Linked DNA regions of Homo sapiens: all the other regions are linked to region 4. The links come from fine-mapping of genetic effects on gene expression. A gene starts in region 4. Each other region holds a variant in brackets. All regions are shown on one strand. Distances are from middle to middle.

Evidence for each region. PIP is the estimated chance that this variant, and not a neighbour inherited with it, causes the effect.
Region 1: its variant is the best candidate, but not a certain one, in a credible set for the expression of DRAM1 in lymphoblastoid cells (TwinsUK, PIP 0.61).
Region 2: its variant is the best candidate, but not a certain one, in a credible set for the expression of DRAM1 in skeletal muscle (GTEx, PIP 0.67).
Region 3: its variant is the best candidate, but not a certain one, in a credible set for the expression of DRAM1 in whole blood (INTERVAL, PIP 0.87).

The regions. Positions count from the first base shown.
Region 1 is chr12:101,852,633-101,858,004 of GRCh38, forward strand. No RefSeq gene overlaps it. Among named protein-coding and RNA genes, the nearest start is that of DRAM1, 22 kb to the right of the region's middle. RefSeq lists an enhancer at 2,151-2,650 and cis regulatory regions at 2,160-2,377, 2,630-3,306. The variant C/G (reference allele first, on the strand shown) is at 3,028.
Region 2 is chr12:101,930,014-101,935,174 of GRCh38, forward strand. No RefSeq gene overlaps it. Among named protein-coding and RNA genes, the nearest start is that of DRAM1-AS1, 32 kb to the right of the region's middle. RefSeq lists a silencer at 379-428 and enhancers at 639-718, 1,538-1,657, 2,018-2,127. The variant T/TA (reference allele first, on the strand shown) is at 2,587.
Region 3 is chr12:101,919,144-101,924,143 of GRCh38, forward strand. DRAM1 (DNA damage regulated autophagy modulator 1) reads left to right here. Exons shown (of 7, transcript NM_018370.3): 6 at 966-1,058; 7 at 2,073-4,469. The coding sequence ends at 2,117. Among named protein-coding and RNA genes, the nearest start is that of DRAM1-AS1, 43 kb to the right of the region's middle. RefSeq lists an enhancer at 4,201-5,000. The variant A/G (reference allele first, on the strand shown) is at 3,097.
Region 4 is chr12:101,875,128-101,880,499 of GRCh38, forward strand. DRAM1 (DNA damage regulated autophagy modulator 1) reads left to right here and starts at 2,453. Exons shown (of 7, transcript NM_018370.3): 1 at 2,453-2,793. The coding sequence starts at 2,663. RefSeq lists enhancers at 1,857-2,639, 2,430-2,479, 2,640-3,421, 3,060-3,149, 3,290-3,339 and silencers at 2,090-2,249, 2,500-2,839.

The sequences.
Region 1 (5,372 bases), 22 kb before region 4:
CCGTGTTGAATAGTCCTTGAATGCCTCTGGGTATTCCTCTTTCCCCAGTGCACAGCTACCTCAGTAAATGACCACTGGTCTTTTTGATAAAGGACTGAAAATCATTACAGAATATACTCAAGATGATGTTTCAGGGTTCTTTATTCTGGGGACCTGGCCACCTCTTCAGTCCACCAGTACCAGGTCTGAAAACTGACTTAGGTTCAACATCAGGGCAAGAGATCCTGATTTCCTTTTGGGTGACCACCCCGATTTTGTCAAATGCAGTTTATTAACCATTATACACCTATTGCTAAGCCCAGGGACTGACACATAGTAAGTACTCAAAAATATTTGTTGAATGAATGAATGACACTTGGAATTTCAGAGACATAAAAGTTTAGGGTGGTATATAAAACCTCAATCAATCAGTGATGATTGAAGTGTTTATTCTTTCATTAAGTATCCTACTTGACCTACAGGGAAAACATAGAGACCTACAGGGAAACATCAAAAACATAGCCTCTGGAATCAATCAGTGTGACTTGATACCAGGTCTCCTCTTATCATTTCTAAGTCTCAGTTTCCTCATGTGTAAAATGGGTATAATAATAACTTACAAGGCTGCTGTGTGGATCAAATGAGATAATGCACATAAAGATCTCAGCATGGTGCCTGATACATAGCAAGTGTTATAAGGTTAAAATTTTATTTATTCATTTTGTTATTTTATTATTATTAGTTTTTGAGACAGTGTTCCTCTGTCACCCAGGCTGAAGTGCAGTGGCGTGATCTCAGCTCACTGCAACCTCTGCCTCCCAGGTTCAAGTGATTCTCCTGCCTCAGCCTCCTGAGTAGCTGGGATCACAGGCCTGCACCCCTACGCCCAGCTCATTTTTTTTTTTTTTTTTTGTTTAGACAGAGTTTCGCTCTTTGTTGCCCAGGCTGGAGTGCAGTGGTGCGATCTCTGCTCACTGCAACCTCTGTCTCCCGGGTTCAGGCAATTCTCCTCTCTCAGCCTCCCAAGTAGCTGGGATTACAGGCTCCCCACCACCACGCCCAGCTCATTTTTGTATTTTTAGTAGAGGCGGGGTTTCGCCATGCTGGCCAGGCTGGTCTCGAACTCCTGACCTCAGGTGATCCGCCCGCCTTGGCCTCCCAAAGTGCTAGGATTACAGGTAGGAGCCATCACGTCCAGCCAATTTTTTTTGTATTTTTAGTAGAGACAGGTTTTGCCATGTTGGCCCAGCTGGTCTCGAACTCCTGGCCTCAAGTGATCCACCTGCCTCAGCTTCCCAAAATACTGGGATTATAGGTGTGAGCCACCATGCTCAGCATAAGGTTAAAAATTTAAATACCGCAACTCCCATAGGCCACAACTGTTACTCCTTTGTCTCTGTTTATAATTGATCTAAACATTCTCAGTAAACTCCATTTGGTTTGAGGGAGGAGGAAGGCAGAGAAGTAGGATGCCGCAGGAGTTAAACTTGTCAAATAAAGGTCCGTTAGTCTCTGCAAGATGGTTAAGATTATCTCTTGCTGAGTAAATATTAAATAATCTAATATTTAACTCCACATCAGAGCCATTTCATCCTTCTTTCTCTTACTTTTCAAGGTGTCAGGGTTCCATGGGCAAGCCATGTGCACTCTTGGCACATTTACCCATAAATGAGTCTCTCCATAGGCTTTGGAATCCTTGTAGGCTTCAAGGTTTTTGCTCAACTTAGTATTGATACCCTGGTTATGCTCAGCCACTGGGACACTGGGGACATTTGCTGCTAGAGTGTGCAGTATGACTATTGGTCTGTCCTCTTGGTTGGCGTATATTAGTCTGTTCTCGCACTGCTAGTAAAGACATACCTGAGACTGGGTAATTTATAAAGAAAAGAGGTTTAGTTGACTCAGTTCCGCATGGCTGGGAGGCCTCACTATCATGGCGGTAGACGAGTGAGGAGCAAAGGCATGTCTTTCACAGTGGCAGGCAAGAGAGCTTGTGCAGGGAAACTGCCCTTTATAAAACCATCAGATCTTGAGAGACTTATTCACTACCACAGGAATAGTATGGGTGAAAATGCCCTATGATTCAATTATCTCCACCTGTCCCTGCCCTTGACACCTGGGGATTATTACAATTCAAGGTGAGATTTGGGTGAGGACACAGCCAAACCATATCAGTTGTGGTAGGGCCCATTGATCTACAAATGTGACTTGACCTCACTTTTGCATCCCTTCAAGGCTCAGCCACTGCCTCCCTCAGACATGTGGTAGAGGTTATCAGGTCCCTGTCTACCCACTTCCTCATGGTGACCCAATGGCAGGTCACACTCAATTACCTTTCACTTCCCCAAAAAGGATGCTGAAAAGGGGTCTTTTGACTCTCTTCCAAGTCATCAAGGGAGGTCTGCACTGTTGAATTAGGCTAATTAGGCTACCATTACATCACCGTAAGCCTAGGTGCACTCTGCAGTGGTGTTCTCTCCATTTCAAAACAAGAAGTCAGGTTAAATCTGTCTTTACATATATTTTCTCTCTTCAACATAAACTGGGTTTTCACTTTTCTAATCAGCTACTGATGCAGGATTTTTTATTCCTTACCACCACTAGGTCTGGGTTCTCATCTCACAACCAGGAAGAATTAGGCATGCAGACACTTGAAGAGTGAGTGGAGCAGAATTTATTAAGTGAAAGGAAAGCTCTCAGCAAAAAGAGGGGACCTGAAAGCAGTTTACTGGTTGCCCCCTTCACAGTTGAATACCAGGGCTTAAGGCATGAATTTCTGGTGGCTCCACCCTGTCCTTCCAGTGCTGATGCAGGCCCTTGGACTGAGCAGCTCCATATTGATTTATTTCCCTTACTGTGTATGTGTTAAGGAATGGAATTTTCCACTGCAGGCATGTTTAGGCAAGCTCCCCGTGCAAGTTCCCTTATCTGCACAAAACATCTGGTGTAAGCACTTGTAGGGTGGGTGGGAGGTTCTCCGGGGACCCTTCCCTTACTGTCTGCCTAAAGCAAGCTGGCTAACACTTATCACTACAACCCCTTGAGTTT[C/G]AACAGGGAGAAGGAGCTATGTGTAAAGCAAGGGTCTTGGTGTCTAATCTCTTCCTGCACATCTTCTACACCCTGCACCACTAGACCAGAGGAAGGCTTCCCTCTGGGTAGACGTCCCTTTTAGAATTTTTGTTTTTCTTCCTTGACCTAAAGCTAGTTCTTCTCTTTCTTTTCCCTGAGGCAATAAACATCTCCTAGTCCCAAAGTGAGGAATGTTTGCAAGAACGGGAAAAAGTTTATAGAGAAAAAACTATTTGGGGAGGTACAACATTTATATCACCCTTTAACTATCAAATTTGAGTGTCTTCTGCTCCTCTTCTCTTTTTAGATTAATTATACAAAATCAAGAGTACATGTTTTTACATAGCTAAGATATATGATATGGTCTGGCTGTGTCCCCACTCAAATCTCATTTTGAACTAGAGTTCCCATAATCCCCACGTGTCATGGGAGAGACCTAGTAGAAGGTAATTGAATCATGGAGGCAGTTACCCCCATGCTGTTCTCGTGATAGTGAGTGAGTTTCCCCAGATCTGATGGTTTTAAAGAGCGTCCCCCCTACACCACCTTCACTCTGCACTTCCTGCTGCCACCATGTGAAGAAGGACATGTTTACTTCCCCTTCTGCCATGATTATAAGTTTCCTGAGGCCTCCCAAGCCCTGTGGAACTGTGATCCAGTTAAACCTCTTTCCTTTATAAATTACACAGGCTCAGATATGTCCTTACAGCAGCATGAGAACAGGCTAACACATAATATTTAAATTTTGATATTGAAACATTGGAGCTCAATACATATTAATGATGACATAATAACGACAGAATTGAGCAAAAGCACTGAAAACTGCACTTGATAGGAATTGGAATGCATTCTGCCACAAAGACCTGTTTATAAAAAATAAACATAAAAAAGTAATCAGAATACTTAATGCTTCAGATTTTGGTCTGCTGATGAGTAATTTGAGCCAATCTTAAATAAGACTTTTCTTATTTTAATTCTTTTTTTTTTTTCAAAGATGATGTCTTGCTCTGTCACCCAGGCTAGAGTGTAGTAGCGTGATCTCAGCTCACTGCAACCTCCACCTCCCGGGCTCAAGTGATTCTCCTGCCACAGCCTCCTGAAAGCTGGGACTACAGGTGCACAACACCACGCATGGCTAATTTGTGTATTTTTAGTAGAGATGGGGTTTCACCCTGTTGGCCAGGCTGGTCTCGAACTCCTGACCTCAAGTGATACTGCCTCTTCAGTCTCCCAAAGTGCTGGGATTACAGGTGTGAGCCACTGCCCCCGGCCTCTTATTTTAATTCTTTAACCAAAGAAATGTGAGGACAAAGGTCCTGGATGAGACCATAAAACCTGGATTATGATCATTATGAAGGAGACTGCCACTAAATAATATGTGAGTATGCACACATTACCTCTCTGGTTTTACAGTTTCCTCTTGCACAAATCCAAGGCATTAGACTAGATGACCTCTAAGGAACCTTTCTGTAGATCTATAATTTTTTCTGAAATGCTCAGATGGCTCATTGTCCATAAATGTGTCAGCAAGCTGAGTTATTCATTGAGTCACATGTTAACCTCTCACTGGAACTGCAATGCATTACAGTGCTATTATGTAACTCTCCAGCCCCTTAGGATTTGGGGTCATTATAATTAGCCAGAATGGAAAGAACTCCTGAATGATATATCCGGTCTAAGCACAGGCACATGAATTACATGGCTGAGATGGGTAAACCTGAAAATTTTCTGAGAAGTAAACACATTTTTGTTACTATTAATTCCTTCCTCCTCCTCCTGCTCTTGCTTCATCACTTACTTCTGCTATGTCTTCATATTCTCTCTCAGAAAGCATTCTGTTCTAACCCCCAAATGTATCTCTCCATTTTGTCTTCTTGTGCTTCTCCACCTATCTTCTTGGAATAGAAGTCTGAACCTACTGCTTTACTTTTCAGTTCCATGCAATCCAGCTTCTATCTGTACCACTCTCCTGAAATTCCTACAAAGATTGCCAGTGACTGCTTATCTGCCCAAACCGACCTCTTCTTTTCCCCTTTGTGCTGATTCCACTGCAGCATTTGCTCTTTGGTAATCTCATATATACCAACCCCTTTCCACTGATGTTTCCCAAGTCAATTTCCAACTATCTAGCAGTTGTCTTCACCTAGGTGTCCTACAGACATCTCAAACTGTTGGATGTCTAAAACCAAATTCATAATCCTCCAGACTTCTTCTATTCCCTGGCTCAATTAATGATTAATATTCACTGATCCTTTTTTTTTTTTTTTTTGAGACAGTCTCACTCTGTCACCTAGGCTGGAGTGCAGTGTCACCATCTTGGCCCA
Region 2 (5,161 bases), 55 kb after region 4:
TGGGTTCTTATGACTCTCAACTCCTGGTATCTTTTGCTTCTGGATGGTGCGGTAAGAGGGACTGGGGGTTGTCGTCCGTCTGTCTGGACTTCCCAAAGGAGAAGTCATGGTGAGGCCCAGGGAAAGGACCATCTAGGCTATCACAGGGCTGGGTAAAAGAAGTCCTCAGTGCTCACTTTTTAAAAAAGTTATTTTAATTTATTACTATTATCATTTTATTATTATGTTTGAACACTCTTGGTGACCATTATTATTACTTTACTGTGGTAAAATATAACATAAATTTTATCATCTTGGTGATTTTTTTTTTTTGAGACAGATCTCACTCTGCCACCCAGACTGGAGTGCAGTGGTGTGATCTTGGCTCACTGCAGCCTCAACCTCTGGGCTCAAGTGATCCTCCCACCTCAGCCTCCCAAGTAGCTGGGACTACAGGTGTGCACCACCGTGCTTGGCTAATTTTTGTATTTTTTGTAGCGATAGGGTCTCACTATGTTGCCTAGGCTGGCCTCAAACTCCTGGACTCAAGAGATCCTTTTGTCTGGGCCTCCCAAAGTGTTAGGATTATAGGCGTGAGCCACCACCACGCACGCCTGGCCGTCGTAGCCATTTTTAAGTGTGCAGTTCAGTGGTTTTGAATACATTCATAATGTTGTGCAACCATCACCACCATCCATCTCCAGAACCCTCTTCATCTTGTAAAACTGAAACTCTGTGCCCATTGAACAATAACTCCTGATTCCCTCTTGCCCCAGCCCCTGGCAACCATTATTCTACTTTCTGGCTCTATGATTTTGACTATTCTAGATACCTCATATAAGTGGAATCATACAGCATTTCTCTTTTTGTGACTGGCTTATTTCATTTAGCGTAATGTCTCAGCACCATCCATGTTGTAGCATGTGTTGGAATTTTTTCCATATTAAGGCTTAGTAAGATTCCATTGTACATTTATACCCACTTTGTTTACCAATCATCTGTTGATGGACACTTCAGTTGCTTCCACATTGTGAATAATGCTGCTACAAACATGTGTGTACAAATATTTCTTTGAGACCCTGCTTTAAATTCTTCTGGGTATATACCAAGAAGTGGGATTGCTGGATCATATGGAAATTCTATTTTTAATTTTTTGAGGAACCACCATACTGTTTTCCATAGCAGCTGTACCATTTTACAGTCCCACCAACAGTGCACAAGGATTCTAATTTCTTCACATCCTCGCCAACATTTGTTTTTTCCTATTTATTTATTTATTTGAGATTTGAGGGTCTTGGTATGTTACCCACGCTGGCCTCCAATTCCTTGGCTCAAGAGATCCTCATGCCTCAGCCTCTAAAGTAGCTGGGATTACAGGCACAAACCATAGCACCTGACATATTTTCCATTTTTTTGGTTAGTAGCCTTCCTAATGGGTGTGAGGTGATATCTCATAGTATTTTGGTTTGCATTTCCCTAAGAATTAATGATGTTGGTCATTTTTTCATGTGCTTATTGGTCACCTATATATCTTCTTTGGAGAAACATCTGTTCAGTTCGTTTTTGAATTGGGTTGTTTTCCTCAGTCCTCAGTCTTGTCACATGTATGGATGTGATATCAGATCAGCAGCATGTAAGTTAGTCTTCTTGGAGCTGAAGCAGCAGCAGGAAGTGGTGAGGACTCTGGCTCCTGGGTTCCAGCTCTCTTGCTCTCCCTTGCTCATCAGGCTAATATCAGCATGAGTGACAGGAAAGCCTGGAAGACTAACTTCACCTTCTTTAACAATCCTTTTACTCAGGGTCAGCCCAGAGTAGCAGGTTCTGGGTGCCACCTAAGACATCTGATTTAAGGTGAAGAGTGATGTATTTAGAATTGGCCAGTGCTTTGACAGCTGCAAACATAACCTTTAACACGCATATTAAAATGAATACTGAGCTTAGTTCAGTCTTTCATTTCCTTTTAATACTTGAAAAGCTACAGTTTTGTTTTAAAGTTCTCTTAAAAGGCTCTAGCAGGTGAATTTATTCTTCTGCTTGATTGCATTTGGACCCTTAAATAACAGCCACCTTGAAACTGAAACCGGGAAAACCCCAGGTCTCTGGCCAGAAGAAGCAAAGGTATGTTCTGAGATTTATTAAATAATTACCTACTTGTTGAAATGTTGTAGGCAGGAGAAAAAAGCTGAGATGTTGGCAAATATGAGTAGAGATTAGGAAGGATCTTGAGTCATGAGGCTTTTAAATGTGGTGGAACATTTTGGTGTTACTGACCTTTGACTCAGGACAGTTGAACCAAGCGATGTGGTCTTCAGACTCAACCTGGCCGTGGCTTGGTATATCTTTATATTGACTGTCTCAATGACCGCAGTCAACTGTGATCCAGTTGTTTGGAGCATTCACAGCAATGACTTGAAGGGAAGAGAATAAGGAGTGAGAAACAAAACTCGGAATTCGTTGGCCTTTGTGACAGCCCGTCTGCAGTTGGTCTGAATAGCACATAGGGAAGGTTTCCTAATGTAGTACATTGCTCTGAAACTAATTTGATTCAGAGCGCCAGGGAGGGAGGATGTTTTCACTTGGTGATACCTTCCATCAGTGTTCCAAACT[T/TA]CAGCCATCTGTGCTTCTTTTGAAATTTCTTGTCATGCTGTGTACCAAAATTTACTTAATACTTTGCAATGGCTCCTTAACTTAAATATTTTTATTTTAAAGAGAAACTTCTCCTACTGCTTTGTCTCCTGGATTGCCTAGGTTGGTCAATGATATTACCATCTGTTGGGTCACCCAGGGCAGAAACATGAGCATTATCCTAGACATCTCACTTTGCTCAAAGCCCACACCCCATGTTCTATTAACATTGTCTCCTGGCCGGGTGTGGTGGCTCACACTTGTAATCCCAGCACTTTTGGAGGCCCACTCCGGTGGATCATTTGAGGTCAGGAGTTCAAGACCAGCCTGGCCAACATAGTGAAACCCTGTCTCTACTAAAAATACAAAAATTAGCCGTCGTGGTGGCACACACCTCTAATCCCAACTACTCGGGAGGCTGAGGCAGGAAAATCACTTGAACCCTGGAGGCGGAGGTTGCATTGAGCGGAGATTGCACCACTGCACTCCAGCCTGGGCGACAGAGTGAGGGAGACTCCGTCTCAAAGAAAAAAAAGAAAAGGCTCCTATGTACAGTATGAATAGATAATTATCATCCAAATTAGGGCATTTTGGGGGGCAAATGGGACACTACTAATAATCATACCCAGGGTAAACTGTCTGAAGCAAATGGGGATGTATGGTCAACCCGTCCATATGGTCTTGAATCCTCTTCCCATTACATTCTCCCTGCTATTACTGCCTTAGTTCAGGCCTTCAAAATTATTTGCTTAGACTAGTGTAGTAGCTTGCTACGGTTTCCTTGACTTCAATCTTGGTCCTTTCCAACGTATCTTACACACTGCACATAAACATTTGATCTATCACCCTTTTCAGACCTTTCAGTATCTGCCTGTAATGTCATGATACATTTCAAATTTCTTAGTGTGGCTTATGAGGTTCCTCACAGATCTGGTTCCTTCTAGCCTTCCAGGCTGTTTGCTCGTTTATCTATTGCTCTATTCACATTTATTGTCACTGTGGGTAGTACAATGTTAGGCTCCAGGAATATAATAATAAGATGAGTTTTTGCCCTCAAGATATTTATAGTGCAGTAGAGAAACAGTCAAGGGGATGCTGTAGCAATATGTACCATGGCAAAGCACCACAACCTATGGCTTCACTATTCAGGGTGTTGTTCAGGGACCAGCAGCATGACTATCACTTGGGAGCTCTGTAGAAATGCAGAATCTAAGTCCTAGGGCAGTAGCTCAAATCTCTAATCTCAGCTTTGGGAGGCTGAGGTGGGAGTATCACTTCAGGCCAAGAAATTGAGGACTGCCTGGGCAACACACCAAGACCCCATCTCTCAAAAAAAAAAAAAAAATTAGCTGGTGCGGTGGCACACATCTGTAGTCCTAGTTACTTGAGAGTTAAGGCAGCAGAATGGATGGCTTGAGCCCAGGAGTTTGAGGCTTCAGTGAGCTATGATTGCACCACTGTGCTCCAGCCTGGGCAACAAAGTGAGACGCTGTGTCTGAAGAAAGAAAGAAATGCAGAATCTTAGTGCCCCGAGCCAGACTCAGTAAATGCGAATCTGCATTTTAACAAGATCCCTAGGTGATTGGAATGAATGTCAGCTTTTGAAGTCCTGGTCTATGGGACCACACTAGTTGAAGCACTTGATTCAGATCCCCAGGAGAGGTCATGCCTGGCAAGAGACTTAGAGAAGAAGATGGAGTTTGCTAAATGAAGGCGAGGAGGGAAGAGGCACATGTCCTGGACAAATTGGCATGTGCTTTGGCACACAGGCAAAAGAGGATGTGCTGTTTGGGGGAAGTTACAAGTTGTTCCATATTTTGGGAACAAATTGCTGATGGTGGCCTCACTTAGCTCAGACATGCCATCAATTCAAGGAAAAAGTTTGATCAAATTTGATACCTCCATCTCATATTTGAGCCAATCCTGAAACATAGTGATTAAGAATGAGTACTTTGATTCATAAAGAAAAAGCAGAATAGAAGTTACTAGGGGCTGGGGACAGGGGGAGATGGGGAATTATTGCTTAATGGACAAGAGTTTCTGTTTGGGATGGTGAAAAATTCCTGGAAATGGATAGTTGTACAACATTGTGAATACCATGAAATTGTAAATACTTTAAAATGATTAAAGTGGTACATTTTATGTTATGTATATTTTATCATAATTTTTTTAAAGAATAAGTACTTTGGAATCAAGACCTAATTTTCAAGACCTACCATTTCCTTTCTGTCACGCCTCAGTCAAGTCAGATAACGTCTTGGTGTCTCAGTACCCTTATCTGTAAAGTGGGAATAATGCTAGCACCTGCCTTGTAGGCTTGTCACGAGGATTCCTTGAAGCAATGCCTGTAAAGCACCTGGGAACTTGTTGGTGATCCTTATGCCTGCCCATTGAAGCTTGAAATGCCCAGCCTTAGCAGTTTGCCTGGCACAGCCAGAGCTGTGCATGGCAGATGCTGTTATAGCCCTTCCACCTCCCTCTCGACTGCATACCCTCAACTGTCTTCTCCCTGTACAGCAGCAGTTTTCAACTCTGGCTGCACATGAGAATCACCTGG
Region 3 (5,000 bases), 44 kb after region 4:
GATCCTCCTGCCTCAGCCTTCCAAAGTGCTGAGATTACAGGTGTGAGCCATTGCAACAGAGTTTTAAAATTAGTTTCCAGCACTGAAAAATCAGGAGATATCACACACAGACACATCCACAGACACACAGACACACACACGCACACACACACACACACACACGGTTTTGTTTTTTTAAACCCCTTTGAAAGCAACACTAGTGTATTATTTTCCCATGGAATTGAGCTGATGAGGCGTGGGCTCCCTAACTTCCCTCTCTTTTCACAACCATCAGTTTTATTTATTATTGTTAATTTTCTGGCCTCCATAGGCAACTGAGTTTGGAACATCTGATTGAAGCCATTCTCCTTGGCTTCCATTCTCCCATTCTTGCCTCCAAGAAGATATACAGTTAACATGTGGATGTCCATTATTAGCATTTTCTTTGTAGCTGTATTTACCTTGGGATGTTAAGCAGAACTATTTCCTGAATGATCATTTCTATATAAACAGGGAAACACGAAACCTAGGGGACTAGTTGGCCAAGTTCATCTAGATGTGTACACACTTTCTTTGGAACAACTGCGAGAGTGCTTGTTAAGCATAGCCTTACACTTAGGGATTCTCAGCAGAGCGAGACCAAGTCATGCCTTGTATGGAAATTTCTTTCTTCTGTTGAGTCCAAATTTGCTTCCCAGTCTCAGCCATTTTGCAGTCCTTAGTCTACCTTTTGAAGTGACAAACTAAATCTTAAAACAAGAGTTTGTGCGAGCCAGAAAGAACTTTGGAATACCTGCCTTCGCATTCTCAGTGGGCAGGTGCCCTGACACTTAGTAACGTGGTTGTGCTTACCGTATATCCTCAAAGTTCTGACTTATGCTCACTGGACAGCTTTTTCCTTTGGTTGAAACTCCTCATTGTATTTCAGTATGTACATTAAAGTGAGTCTTTTTCGGCTAAATTCTGTTTCTTTATTATTGCATTAGGATTATGTATATCACGTAGTGAGTGCGATCTGTGAATGGACAGTGGCCTTTGGTTTTATTTTCTACTTCCTAACTTTCATCCAAGATTTCCAGGTAGGTGTTTATCAATTCAAATGTTTTAAATTGCGGACAATTAGGATTAGTAAAAATTTGCAGAAGACATTTTGCATTTTTAAAAAGAGCACTTTCTTTTTTTTTTTTTTTTTTTGAGACGGAGTCTCGCTCTGTCGCCCAGGCCGGACTGCGGACTGCAGTGGCGCAATCTCGGCTCACTGCAAAAAGAGCACTTTCTTTTTATCCTTAATGTGTTTGAGAAAAATCTGTAAGGATTGTGCAACTTCATGTGTTAGCTTATTCCCAATGGGAGGCATCTTTAATAGCTCTCCCACCAATGAGATTTTCATATGTCCTCTGCTGTTTGATGTTAATAGTCATGTATCCTGGTTGTTTTCTTTTAGGAGGTCTCACTTACTAGTTCCAAATAATACAAAGTAAATATATCTTTTTTAAAAATAAAAGTATGCCAGGTGTGGTGGTTCACATCTGTAATCCCAGCACTTTGGGAGGCCGAGGCGGGCAGATCACCTGAGGTCAGGAGTTCGAGACCAGCCTGACCAACATGGAGAAACCCCGTCTCTACTAAAAATACAAAATTAGCTGGGGGTGGTGGCACATGCCTGTATTCCCAGCTACTCAGGAGGCTGAGGCAGGAGAATCACTTGAACCCGGGAGGCGGAGGTTGTCGTGAGCTGAGATCATGCCATTGCACTCCAGCTTGGGCAACAAGAGCGAGACTCTATCTCAAAATAAATAAATAAATGAATAAATAAAAAATAAAAGTGTGTTGTTCAAAAAACATTCCCAAAGCAGATAGAAGATGGGACTATATCAGATTTGTCCACAGGAAAAATCTTACATTTTGAAACAAGTGAATTATTAGCTCAAAGGATATAGAAAGCCAAGAAAATTCTTTAGGACCTGACTCAAGCATAGCACAAACCATAGTGAGATCATTCCTTAGGTGGTGCAGAGCTGTTGGAAATGTCATTGTCAACGCTGGGATTGTTTAACTTCTTTTAAACCTTTCTCTTTCATTTTTAAAAATAGAGTGTCACCCTAAGGATATCCACAGAAATCAATGGTGATATTTGAAGAAAGAAGAATTCAGTCTCACTCAGTGAATGTCGCAGGCCATTTCTAAAAGTGCTACAGAGGACAGACAGGGTTTTGAGGCCACCCTGATTATTGGGATGCATCTGCAGCACATCCAGGACTTGAATTTCATTACGAGTTCCTAATAGTTGTATTTCTAAAGATGTGTTTCCTAGAGAATGTACAGCCTTATGACACTGTAGTGATGTTTTTATAATTTTCTAAGTAGATTTTTTTATATTAACAAATTCATATACAGAAAAAATAAGGTGTTACAAAAAATGGAGAGCTCTTATTTTTGTACAGATTCTGTCGTTTTTGTTTTATTTGTGTGAGATTTATGGAAATACACTAAATGAGTAATTCAGGTTCAGTACATTTATTACAAAGTGAAATCAGGGGATATTCATTTGTAAATTTTATTCTTAGTGAATGAACTGTATAATTTTTTTTATCAGGAGAGCACTTATAAAATTCAATTTATAAAGATCATATACCCAAATCATAAAGATTTAGTTGATACATTAACACTAAGATACTCTGATTTTTAGCCGAACTAAACAAAGTGCTTCTACTGAGAGGCCTTTATACCACCATGTACAGTAACTCTAAGTGAATACGGAAGACCTTGGTTTTGAAATTCTGCCACCTTGTTTCTCCCTGCTCATGAGGTCGCACCTTTTGCTCTTGCTGCTAATTGCCCATTCGTAGTGGGTGTAATGCCAGGTGGAATGGTTTCAACAAGTCAGGTGAAAACCATCCTTTATTGTTGCTGGCACAACTTGATATATAGTCTGACTCAGAACTGAAGCTCACATCTCAAATTCATTTCATGCCAGTAAATGTGGCAAAGAGAAGAAAGGCCCAAGAGCGAGACAAGAAGAATGGAGAAGGGGGCAGCCAAGAAGAACTTCTGGGTTCAGGGTACTGTTTATTTGCTCCTTCTCTTCATGCCTGTGGCTGGATGTCCCACAACACT[A/G]TAAGAAATATAAGTCAAGCCCTTTGTGTTAAGCAAGAACTACAGACTCCATCTTTTCACCCAAATCATGAATGACCAATAAAAAGCAAGTTATTCCAGAGGAAGAAGCAGCCCTTGAAATGTTAAGGCTTAGGCTTGAAAGGTGAAGAGCAGGAATTCTCTCTTTCAAATCCTAGAGCATAAACCCATGTGTGGCCAAGTGAGATCAGCCCTCAAGGGCACATGCCAAGGGCAGAGCAGCCCATGTAGACAGCTTCGGAGGGCATGGGGGTGTAGGGAGTTCGGGGTAGCTCCTCATTAACTATTTGTTGGGTGAGTAAAGGGGTGAGGCTCAGTGGCAGGTACCTCTGCAATGACAAGCTGCCTCCCCTCTATGTGTTTAGCATATGTTATTAGAACATGTCCGACACCCCTACCGCTGCCATTTGGGCCCTTTAATAAAGCCAAGTAGAGAAATCTGGCAATAAAAGGCAAATGTAAGCATGCTTTCTTTAAGACGCATCATAAATGGTTTTCTTTAAGTGAATGGAAGAGTTTGACAGAGATACACCTTTGTAAGAAAACATTAAGAATGCTGGCTGGCTGTGGTGGCTCACACCTGTATTCCCAGCACTTTGGGAGGCCTAGGCAGGAGGATTGCTTGAGCCTGGGACTTCGAGACCAGACTGGGAAACATGGCAAAATCCCATCTCTACAACAAAAATACAAAAATTAGCCAAGTGCGGTGGTGTGCCTGTAGTCCTAGTTACTTGGGAGGCTGAGGTGGGAGAATCACCTGAGCCCAGGAGGTGGAGGCTGCAGTGAGCCATGCCAATGCACTCCAGTCTGGGCAACAGAGTGAGACCCTGTCTCAAAAATAAATAAATAAATAAATGAATAAAGAGAATGCTAATCATTTCTGGGTTCACTGCGACTCACTGTAGTGCTGGGGATCCCCCTTGTAACACTGGAACTGAAAGACAGTGATGAAAGCTATGTCAAGCATTCATTATTCTGAAGAGGAGGAGAAATGCCACATACCTTTCCCATGGGACCTGTGGTGGAATGAATCCATACTTCTGCCTCACTTCGAGCAGACTTTTGTTCTCGGCGCTCCTCACGATGGAGTTTCATGCTTCATTTTCACATCTCTCTGCACAATTAGATTGGGAGCTCCTTGAGGGCAGAGTACGTGCCTTAATCTTTATCTTTGTAATGCCACAATGAACAGAGTGCCTCCTGGTACACTGTAGGAGCTTAAGAAATACTCACTGAATGCATGAATGAATGAATGAACAAATGAAGGAATGACTAAGGATGTTTGTAGTGCTATAATATAGAATGGGATTTACTCTGCTTTACCAGTTAGTTTCATAATAAACAAATAGTCTGTATCGCCTGGTAATGTTGACTGTTTTTCTTTGTGTACTGTAAACATTTCAGTTGTTTCGGCATCACCATTCTATGACAACAATCTTCAACCTGGACAGTTACCACAGAAAATTGTTACACGGGCTAGACCAAATGGTACACCTACCTGTCTTGGCAAACTGAGAAGGCCAAAAAAATCACTCCAGACAACCATATTCAGCAGATTCCATGCGACCTCTAAACCCGGTCTTATTCGGATTTTGGTATTATTTCTAATATCCATGAACTTGCATTTCCTTGTACCTTATGGCTGAAATAGTTAAATGAAATGAAATATTTATTTTAAAATTTGTTTTTCTGTTTTTGAGATGGAGTCTCTTTCTGTTGCCCAGGCTGGAGTGCAGTGGCGCGATCTCGGCTCACTGCAACCTCTGCCTCCTGGGTTCAAGGGATTCTCCTGCCTCAGCCTCCCGAGTAGCTGGGACTACAGGCGCCCACCACCACGCCCAGCTAATTTTTTGTATTTTAGTAGAGATGGGGTTTCACTGTGTTAG
Region 4 (5,372 bases):
GCTGGTCTCGAACTCCTGACCTCAGGTCATGTGCCTGCCTCAACCTCCTAAAGTGCTGGGATTACATTGCACCTGACCATTTTTAAATTTTTATTTGTTTTTGAAATAGAGTCTCGATCTGTGATCCAGGCTGGAGTTCAGTGGTGTGATCATAGCTCACTGCAGCCTCAAACTCCGGGCTCAAGTGAGCCTCCCACGTAAGCCTCTCATGTAGCTGGAACCACAGGTTATGCAACACCACACCCAGCTAATTTTTAAATTTTTTGTAGATATGGTTGCGGGTCTCACTATATTGTCCAGGCTTCGGCCTCCCAAAGCGCCGGGATTACAGAACTGTGAGCTACCATGCCTGGCCAGCTTTTGTGGTTTTTAAAAAGCCTTATTTTAAATTTTCTATTTTGTTTTGTATGGCGGGCACTCACTCCACGGCCACAGTGATCTCTTGAAATACTAGTCTGCCCATGTTCTTACTTTCTCCTTAATACCAAAAATAATCCAAGATTCTCAGCAGGACTCTGGTGACTTTGCCTCTTTGTTTCTCTCTCCATTTGCTGCCTCACACTTATTTAAGTGCTTTCATAGTCCCAGGGAAGCAAGCTCTGTGTATGCATTTCCTCCAGTTGTTTTCTGGGCCTGGAATGCTAATCTTATTTTTCTTTGCCTGGTTAGTAATTACTTCCTTTTGAAAACTCTGATGTCATCTGTCAGAAAACCTCCGTGGTCCTTCCTCTGAGCCCAGGCCCCTGGCCCTCAGCTCTGGGCATGTCTCTACTTTTTAAAATCCTCTCCTTTCCATTTAATAAACCACATAACATAATTTTGTTTTTATTTATTTATATTTTTGAGACAGAGTCTCGTTCTCTCACCCAGGCTGAAATGCAGTGGTGTGATCTCAGCTCACTGAGAAAACCTCCATTTCCCAGGTTCAAGCGATTCTCCTGCCTCAGCCTCCTGAGTAGCTGGGATTACAGGCGTGAGCCATGATGCCTGACTAATTTTTTGTATTTTTAGTAGAGATGGGGTTTCACCATGTTGGCCAGGCTGGTCTCGAACTCCTGACCTCAGGTGATCCACCCACCTTGGCCTCCCAAAGTGCTAGGATTACAGGCATGAGCCACCACGCCTGGCCTAATTTTGTTATTTTGATCTATGAGTGTCCTCGTCCTGAGGGTACTATTACTATTTCATCTTTGTAGCCTAGCATGGCGCCCATGAAATGTGTTTGTGGCTGAAAGGAACCTATCTTTGGTCACCAATGACCCAACAATTTTGGCCACATATGTTGGGCTCAGACTCCCTAAACTATCAAAATCATGTGCTTATATTATAAGTGCCTCCAGAACACAAATCCCTTTCACAGGGCTTGAAATGTATCAAGTCACTATTAATCATCTTAGGCCAAGGCTCCGAGTCTGGGCTACTCCAGAACCTGGAGGGGAGTTTTTTTTGTTTTTTTTTTGTTTGTTTGTTTTTTGAGACAAGGTCTTGCTCTGTCACCCAGGCCGAGTGAAGTGGTGTGATAAAGGCTCACTGCAGCCTCGACCCCCAAGGCTCAAGTGATCATCCCAACTCAGTCTCCCGAGTAACTGGAACCGGCTTTTTTTCTTTTTCATTTTTTTTTTTTTTTTTTGTAGAAGAGGGGTTTCGCTATGTTACCCAGGCTGATCTCTAGTTCTTGGGTTCAAGCGATCCTCCCAACTCGGCCTCCCAAAGTGGTGGCATTCCAGGGGTGATGGCTTTTGGATGCCTCCCAAAGTGATGGCTATTCACGGCGCCCGGCCTGGGAAATCTTATTTCCAGGAAATATTCTCCAGTTGCGCTCTCCTGGAAAGCAGCACAATGGGCCTCCCGGCTCCGTGGGCGCGCAGTCCCACCCGCCTGCCCCGCACCCCACCCGCGTACTCTCCACCCCACCCGTTCCCACCCTGTCTGGGTTTTCGGGTGTTCACCATTGAGGTGGGAGCCACATCTGCGCCCCGTGACCTGGCGAACCTCATTGAACACTTCTGCCCGACCCCCGCAGCAGCAGCGCGACCGGATGGCATGGGTGTCACCACGCGGTGGCCACTCTCACTGCTGCGAAGCGCCGGCGGCGGGACCTCGGAGGGGGCGCCCTCGGGGTGCGAGGCCCGGCACTCCGGAAATCCCCCGGGAGGGAGGGGTTGGGAGAAATAAATCCTTTTCTCCAGAGTTGCGCAAGAGCCAGCGCGGTAGGGCCAGAGTGGGAAGGCCAGAGCGGGCGTCCCCGCCAGTGACCCCACGCCGCCCGTCCGCGCCCAACCCGGCCTCCGCCGAGTGTCCAAACCAAAAGCGAAAGGAACCCGACCCCGCGTCCCCTCCGGCGGCTCCGTAGTCGCGTCCGCTTGGAGCTCGCCGGGCGCCTCCGACCCTGCCGGGCCGCTTTGTGACTTCACTCGTTTCGCAACAAGCCCGGGCAGCCCGCGCCCCACCCACTCTGGCCCGGCAGCCTCGCCGCCCGCAGCCTCGCTCCGCTCCTCGCGCTTCCCCTCCCTCCGGGGCTGGGCCTGCCCCGGCCGTCGCGGAGCCTCCCCTCCCACCGTCCGTGAGTGTACGCGCCCGGCCGCCGCCTCCAGGCAGCCCGGAGCAACCCGGCGCCCGGCCCCGCTGGGCGCAGCACTCCGTCGGCGGCGGCGGCGGCGCGATGCTGTGCTTCCTGAGGGGAATGGCTTTCGTCCCCTTCCTCTTGGTGACCTGGTCGTCAGCCGCCTTCATTATCTCCTACGTGGTCGCCGTGCTCTCCGGGCACGTCAACCCCTTCCTCCCGTATATCAGGTGAGTGGCAGGGTGGGCGTCAGGGCCCCAGGAGCAGGCACAGGGACCACAGGGAGCGCTGCCGACGGGGAGGGAAGGCGTCCGGACCCAGCTTGGGGCGTCGTGTGGTCAGGCAGAGGTGGGAGCAGGAGGAGAGGTGCTCCCGATAGCCTGGGATGTTTAGGGAGGCAGCGGGTGCGGCGCTGAGCACTTCTGCCTGTACCCGGAGCATGGAACAGGGTGGCAGCAAGGAGAGGTTCAGGATAGATGGTAGAGCTTTCATTCTGGGTATGGGACAGAATCTCAGCAGGACGTTCTTAGGCGATATTGAAACAAGATGGGTTCTGATAGATGACATATATTATACAAGAGGTAGATCCAGGTATATGCTAAACAGCCACTATTTTCACTTCTGCATCCCAACATCCCTTGAAGTGGATGTTTGGGCTTATTATTCCCGCAAGCGAGCGGTGGTGTAAAGTTGATGAAATATCATCAACGTGACACTGATGTCACACTAGTTAATGGTAGGAGCAGAATTCACACCCGGCCATGCAGAAAGCAACACTGTGCTGCCCCCAGGTCTCTGGGAGTCTGGCTTAAATTCTCTGGAGCTGCACCAGACACCTCTGGGCACTGTGACCCCAAAGTCCTCAACTTGTCAACAACTTGTGACATCTTTTGTGTTATTTTACCCATTCACTTTTCCTGTGCTTTGGCCTCTACCTTCCTGAGGGGCACTTCAGTGCCAGGGACAGTGGTCTGATCCTCCTATGTGGGTTCCAGCTCAGTGCCTTTCTCATAGTGGCAGGATTCTTTAAACGTTAGAACCATCCATCCTTATCTAAGTAGTGTGACCCCTCTGGACAGGCATTGGTTGGTGAACGGATGATAAGGTTGGTGACACCCAAGGTTTGTTACTGCTATGATAGAAAATGTAGGGCGTCTTCTTCCCTGCAGCCATTCTGTCTGGTGAGCAATGTTCTGTGTTTTTTTGTTTGTTTGTTTGTTTTTTTCCTTTTTTTGGGGGTGGGGGTGAGGAGTGTGGAGAAAGGGGAAACAAAGATCGAGCAAGAGGGGACTAGCATTTTTTAAAATTTTTTTTATTTTTTTGAGACAGAGTCTTGTTCTGTCGCCCAGGCTGGAGTGCAGTGACACAATCTCGGCTCACCGCAACCTCTGCCTCCCGGGTTCAAGCGATTCTCCTGCCTCAGCCTCCCAAGTAGCTGAGATTACAGGCGTGCACCACCACACCTGGCTTAATTTTTTTGTATTTTTAGTAGAGACAGGGTTTCACTATGTTGGTCAGGCTGGTCTCAAATTCCTGACCTCAAGTGATCCTCTTGCCTTGGCCTCCCAAAATGCTAGGATTACAGGTGTGAGCCAGTGTTCCCAGGGAACCAGCATTTACAAGATGCAGGGAATACAGCAATAGGTAGAATAGTGCAAATTTGCAGTAATGATGGTGGTTTTTGCCTATGAAAGGAGATGTTATGTATATCAAGATGTTCTCATCTGGCCTTTCGGTTTTTTCCATTTATTGTTATTATTTTTTATTTTCAGTAGAGACAAAGTCTCACTATATTGCCCAGGCTGGTCTTAAACTCCTGGGCTCAAGCATTCCCCTTGCTTTGGCCTCCCAGAGTGTTGGGATTACAGGCGTGAGCCACCACGCCTGGCCCTCCCATCTGGTATTATGCTTGGAAGAAACCTAGGCTTGGTTTCTCATGGCACATCTCAGGCCCAAGTGCCATCATCTTGCTTCTGAAGCAGGATAGATCCTTCTAGACTTGTGTAAAAGTAAAGACCTGCTCAGCTGGGCACAGTGGCTCACGCCTGTAATCCCAGCACTTTGGGAGGCCGAGGCTGGCGGATCATGAGGTCAAGAGATCGAGACCATCCTGGCCAACATGGTAAAACCTCATCTCTACTAAAAATACAGAAATTAGCTGGGCGTGGTGGTGCACGCCTGTAGTCCCAGCTACTCGGGAGGCTGAGGCAGAATTGCTTGAACCCGGGAGGCAGAGGTTGCAGTGAGCCGAGACAGAGCTACTGCACTCCAGCCTGGTGACAGAGCGAGACTCCATCTCAGAAAAAAAAAAAAAAGGTAAAGAGCTGCTCTACCTGCAGTGCTGCTTCTTTTGTTTGTTTGTTTGTTTGTTTTTTCAGACAAAGTCTCGCTCTGTTGCCCAGTCTGTGGTGTGGTGGTGGGATCACAGCTCACTGCAGCCTCGACCTCCTGGGCTCCATTGATCCTCCCACCTCAGCCTCCTGAATAGCTGGGGACTGTAGATAGGCATGCACAACCATGCCCAGCTAATTTTTAATTTTTTTTTGTATTTGTAGAGATGGCATCTTGCTGTGTCCTGCAATGCTTCCTTTTTTTTTTTTTTTTTTTTTTTTTTTAAGACAGAGTCTTGCTCTGTCGCCCAGGCTGGAGTGCAATGGTGCAATCTCGGCTCAGTGCAACCTCCACCTCCTGGTTCAAGCAATTCTCCTGACTCAGCCTCCCAAGTAGCTGGGATTACAGGCACCTGCCACCACGCCCAGCTAATATTTTTGTATTTTTAGTAGAGACGGGGTTTCACCATGTTGGCCAG